Regions from separate parts of the Homo sapiens genome. Here region 2 is linked to region 1. Evidence: fine-mapped expression QTL. Tissue or cell type: sigmoid colon. Region 1 holds a variant in brackets; the other region holds the start of a gene. All regions are shown on one strand. Distances are between the middles of the regions.

Evidence for each region. PIP is the estimated chance that this variant, and not a neighbour inherited with it, causes the effect.
Region 2: it holds the start of ARHGAP29, and the variant in region 1 is fine-mapped to the expression of ARHGAP29 in sigmoid colon (GTEx, PIP above 0.99).

The regions. Positions count from the first base shown.
Region 1 is chr1:94,068,480-94,071,164 of GRCh38, forward strand. The region is part of intron 11 of ABCA4 (ATP binding cassette subfamily A member 4); the gene reads right to left. LOC124904222 (a long non-coding RNA gene) reads left to right here and starts at 1,880. Exons shown (of 2, transcript XR_007066231.1): 1 at 1,880-2,081. RefSeq lists enhancers at 1-586, 777-1,334. The variant A/G (reference allele first, on the strand shown) is at 1,139.
Region 2 is chr1:94,236,434-94,239,118 of GRCh38, forward strand. ARHGAP29 (Rho GTPase activating protein 29) reads right to left here and starts at 1,151. Exons shown (of 23, transcript NM_004815.4): 1 at 982-1,151. RefSeq lists silencers at 875-1,114, 1,125-1,354.

The DNA.
Region 1 (2,685 bases):
GAAATCAAAATCTTGGCTAATGGACATGTATATTAGTGCACGTATGTACATAAGTACGTTTGGGAGACAGAGATGAATGAATAAACTCTCAGCAGAGGTTTTTGATTTTGATATATTTGGTCTGATTAGCTTGCAAGTTAGAATATAGTAGGTTCTATGAGGCTACGGCCATGGAGTCTATGTGTAAAAGCTGTCTGCTTCTACACTAAGAGTAACTATGCAATCATGAATGTTAGGGAAGAATGTAGGTAGACAAGAACTGGCTATTGTAAGGGGCCAGTGTAAGGTGCTCAAACCTAGCACCACTAGTGGGAAAAGGAGTCAAAGGGCATCTTTGCTGAATAAAAACACAGTGTCTTAAGGCCTCAGAGGCAGATTCTGGGCAAATGTTATAGCCGGAGCTCAGAATCTCAAAGAGAACCATTGTAATGCCCTATGACAGCCAATGACAATAAAGCAAGGAAAGGGCTTTCCTCCTCCCCTTTAGTTTCCTAACTGCTGTGGCTGAGCCCAAGTGGCAGGACCACCACCATTTGAAGTCCACACAAGTCCTACAGCTCTTTGTTGGTTGTTTTGCTGGCACTCACCAGGAAGCAGAGTTCACCCTGGCGGAAGAGGTTTGAGCCCTCTCCAGCGCAGGCAGCTGTGTTCAGGACCTCTGGAGAATGCAGTCATTTGTTTACACAGCTAAATCAAACACCTCCTTGGGAGGACAAGCTGCAGTAGCAGCAGGCTTCCTTCTTTAACTGTGACCTCTCTGTCTGTAATTCAAACACATTCAGTAACAGATACATTAAATTATCTGTTAGGTGGGAAATGATGTCCAGTAGAGGCAGAGAAAGAAAGAAAATCTTTCCTTTTGTTTAAACTTGATGATCAAAGTGGGGAGCAACCCTGTGCTGACGTGGCATAAGAGGACATATTTTGACGAATACATCCAGGACGTGCTAGGAGTGAGGTCTTCGAGGGTAAGGGAGCCACTGCCCGCTTAGAGATGTTGGCTGTATAATCCCGCCTCTCACATCTGTAACTCCTAAACTCAGGCTGAGAACAAAGCGGGCGATGAATGCCAGCGGAGGGCTCAAGTGGCCCTGCTGGTGTCAAGGTAGACACCTGGGGTTCCTTTTGAGAAATGCCA[A/G]TGGATGTGGGCAAACATCCCAGAATGAGTTTCCTGGCTAATCTAAACAGTAACATTCAAGATTTATTTCCCACTACATGGAAAAATCCACTGGATAAAACAGCCTTGGGCTATCTGAATTGGTTGGAATGGTGAGTTAGAGGCCGAAGGCACTGCAATAAATTTTATCTTGCACGCTGGGCACCGCAAACAGACATCTGAAACGTTCACCCACAGAGAGTAAGGAAACACATGACGACTGGAAAACAAAGGGACAGGAAATGCACAGCTGTTAAAAAATGTCTGTCTCTAAAATAAACAACTTAAATACAATAATGAAACAAATAAAAAGATCAAGTTGGAGGACAAAGATTCACACTGGGGCAAAGCCACGAGGTAATGCCTGCGTCTAACTGGGTCCAAAGGAAGAGAATCACCTGGCTGACAACTGCAGGGCACTTGAGCTCTTAAAGTTTCTTGTTGAATCATCCCAACAACTTGGGCACATGGATGCTACTATATTCAAAACATCTGCTAATCAACAGAGCTGGGCACTGACCAATCAGACCACATTCTGGCCACAAACACCCATTTCAGCCACACCAGTGAATGCCACTTGAACTGCAGTTTGGGTTATCATCCTCAGTTTTCTGGCAGTAAAACAGCAAAGTTGCCTCCAATCACAGAGCCTATTGGTGCAAGAGATGGTGTCCTTTCACCTATAGGTGAAGCTTTTGCAAGCCGTGCCTGCTGACTCCAGGCACTACTTCTTCTCCCCTGATGCTGCAGCCACACCTCTGCCCAGCCCATCCATTTCTCTTGAGCTTCACATCTCTGCACTTTGCTTATGCCCTTCCTCCTGCCTGAAATTGTCTTTCTTCCTTGCTTAGCTGGAAAATTCAACCTTTACAGCCCAGAGAAGCATTTATGAGCGTCTATTCTATGTGACTACAGCTCCACTAAGGTAAGTTGGGAAGTCAAAAAGAAAAGTAAGGCAGTTTCGGCCCTTGAGGGGTTCAGGGCCATGAAGGTGCGGAGGCGTATAAACAAATCATGATCAAGGGCTACAGGGAAGGGAATGGTGCACAGAAGAAGGCCCGAAACATAGGACCTGAGTCCTGAAGCGTGGGTGTGGGTGTTGACCTGGCAGTCGAGTGGGGGAAGGATGGAAAGGCTCAGTGGTACCAGGTGGGAAGCCTGGGGCAGTCCCATAGAACATGGAAGAAGCATGAAGGGCTAGACTGGGAAGGCCTTTACCTTAACAGCAATGAGGAGTCACTGTGGAGCTGTGGGCGCTAAGTCTTGGCAAGCCTGGGATTTTAGAAAGATCTTGCTGGAAGCAGTTGAGAGCTGAACAGCAAGAGACTGGCGGCCTGGCAAACAGCTAAGAGAGACAGTACACGCTTCTGTAAATGGAGGCCATAAATGGGAAAGAAGGAGGAATTTCAGAGATAATTTGGAGGAAGAATTGACAGTGCTTAGAGGATTTATGATGTTTTGAATTGGATTTGTACAATCTGTTTCTACTCTGTCAGATTGAATTATGTTCTGCTAGTCCTCTGAGATAC
Region 2 (2,685 bases), 170 kb after region 1:
CAGCCGACGGTGGTAACGACGGACAAAAGATAAACTATAGACAAGAGATACAGTCACAGAGACAGATGGAGAGAAGGGAAGGAGAGCTCAGCTCCTGCCATTAGCAGGTAATATCCTGCCCTCCGAAAACATTTGGGGCCAATACCCTCTGAGAAAGTTTTAAAAAGATAAACATAGAGACAAGAGGCTCGTCAGTCACGAGGGTTCCACCTTGAAACGTCCAACTCCAGCTCACCCGCCCCCCAAAAAATTTTTTTTTTTAATTAAAACTGTCAAACCCCAAAACACGTCCACAATTGAACTGGGACAAACCTCTGAGACTGAGGAAAACTCTCAACGAAACCCAAAAAACACAGACCAGGAGAAAATGCACCACGGAAATCCTAAAATATCTCAGGAATGAGAGCCCAACTGGAGTGAGGGCTGCAGTCAGGGCAGGTGGGAGCGGGAATAGAATCCAGGCAAGAACACAGACCCATAGTGATCAGGAGCACGGATTCCGGAGCAAAAGCGCCTGGGTTTAGGTCCTGACGCTGCCAACCACTAGTCTGTGTGCTTGGGCAGGTTTTTAACCTCGGTTTCCCCGTGTGAACCGAGTCGAACAATCATGGAGTGTTCTGAACATTAAAAGAGTTAAAATGTGCAAAGGCTTCAGAACAGCAGGCGGACCCGTTGTACGCGCTGTGTGCTAACTTTAATTACGATCGTCACCGTCTGCTCCCGGCCACCGCTGGCGTCCTCCCCAGCTCGTCCGCGCCTCCCTCGCCGGGCGCGCCCCTAGCCCCGGCCGGACCCTTCCCGTGGACTCCAGTCCTGGCTCGAGGACACCCGTCCCTAGCGCAGCCTGCCACCGCTTCCACTCGGGGCCGCCCCGCGGGCCTCCCGGACCCTGGACGGCAATTCGCGGGCGCTCGCGCGGGCAACCCCAGCCCGGAGCCACGACCGCCGCGGCCGGAGCAAGCGCCACCTCCTCACACTCACCACGGCGCTCCATCTCGCGTGCCGGACGCGGACGCCCGCCCCACACCTACGGCCGCCGCCACCGCCGAGGGCTGGAGCTCGCTGCCCCCATCCCCCACGGCCTGCGGACGCCCGGCCAAATCTCAGCCGCAGCCGCAGCCGCAGCCACAGCCACAGGCACCACCACCACTGCAGCCGCCACCGCCCCTGCAGCTACCGCCACGGCCGCACCGCCCGCCCGCCAGCCCCGCCCCCTGGAGCCCAGCCCATTGGCCCGCGCTCCCGGGGGCGGGGCCGGCGACCGCGGCAGGTACGGGAGGCAACTAGCTCGCGCGCAGAACGCGACCGTCAGTTGCGCGCGGCCGGACGCTGTCCCAGCATCACGGGCTGCGTCGGCTGCCCTTTTGGCTTGCAGGGGACAGGCAGAGCGACTCAGAGAAAAGTCACCTGAGGACTAGATGCGGCTAATGGCCAGATGAGCAGCTACATTTCTTATGAGACACTTCTGTGGATCGCCTTTTTCCTCCCTCTTCCAGGGGTTAGGGCCTGGGGAAGGGCGCCACACGTCTGAATGAAGAATGAACTACCTCAAAACCAGCCATCTACTCTGCCCCTCTGCCCTCTATGGAGGGTAATAGTTTCCACTTAGGCCTATCTGTATTTTTTTTTTTTTTTTTTTTTTTTTTGGAGACGGAGTCTCGCTCTGTCGCCCAGACGAGTCTAATGGCGTGATCTCGGCTCACTGCAACCTCCGCCTCCCGGGCTCAATTGATTCTCCCACCTCAGCCACCTGAGTAGCTGCGATTATAGGCACCCATTACCACGCCAAGCTAATTTTAGTATTTTTAGTAGAGGCAGGGTTTCGCTATGTTGGCCAAGCTGGTCTCGAATTCCCGACCTCCCGACCTCAGGTGATCCACCCGCCTCAGCCTCCCAAAGTACTGGGATTACAAGCATGAGCCACTGTGCCCGGTCCTTTCTTTCTTAGCTGCACTTTCAAACTCACTTCATAATGAGAAGAAAAAAAAAAGTCTGAGAAAGATGGAATAATTATAGCAAGCAGGGCTAGAAAGCACATAGTCCCTATATCACACCACTCGCTGGAACAAGCGATGGCACTTACCTCAGTGCTGGAACATTCAGAAAGAACTCATAGAGAAACAGAGGAAAAAACACAGGGAGGGAGACTGTGGGTAGCGCTGGGGTCTGCGAGAAAAATGACCACACACGGGAGAAACAGAAAAAGACACAGGAGAATGTGCTGAGGAAAACTGGAAAGAAAATGAGGTGCAGACACAGGAAAAGGGAAGAAAACCAAGGAAGGCAGAAATAAGTGAAGGCAAAAAGAGAAAATAAGGAAGAAAAATAAAAGGAGAGACTACCCACTTAACAAACAGAAAAGTAAGTGAGCATGACAGAACCAAAAGTAGGGTAGCGGGGCAAGAGAAAAACTCATTGACAAAGAAAGAGAAGAGGGACATCTTACATAGACATATCTTTGAACCCTTACAGGAAAAACAATGCTAAGAAAATACAACAAATTTGGCTCCTCAGGTGCTACTTAGAAAAGATAAATAAGAAAACTCAGCTCCTTGGTTACTTTGGCACCATACTGGATTTTTTGGACTCAACTTACACAGATTTTCCCCTCAAATCCCCAAAATAATAGTAACAAGGTCCTGCCACAAATAGGAAACCTCAAAAACCAAAATTCCTTCTAATCGT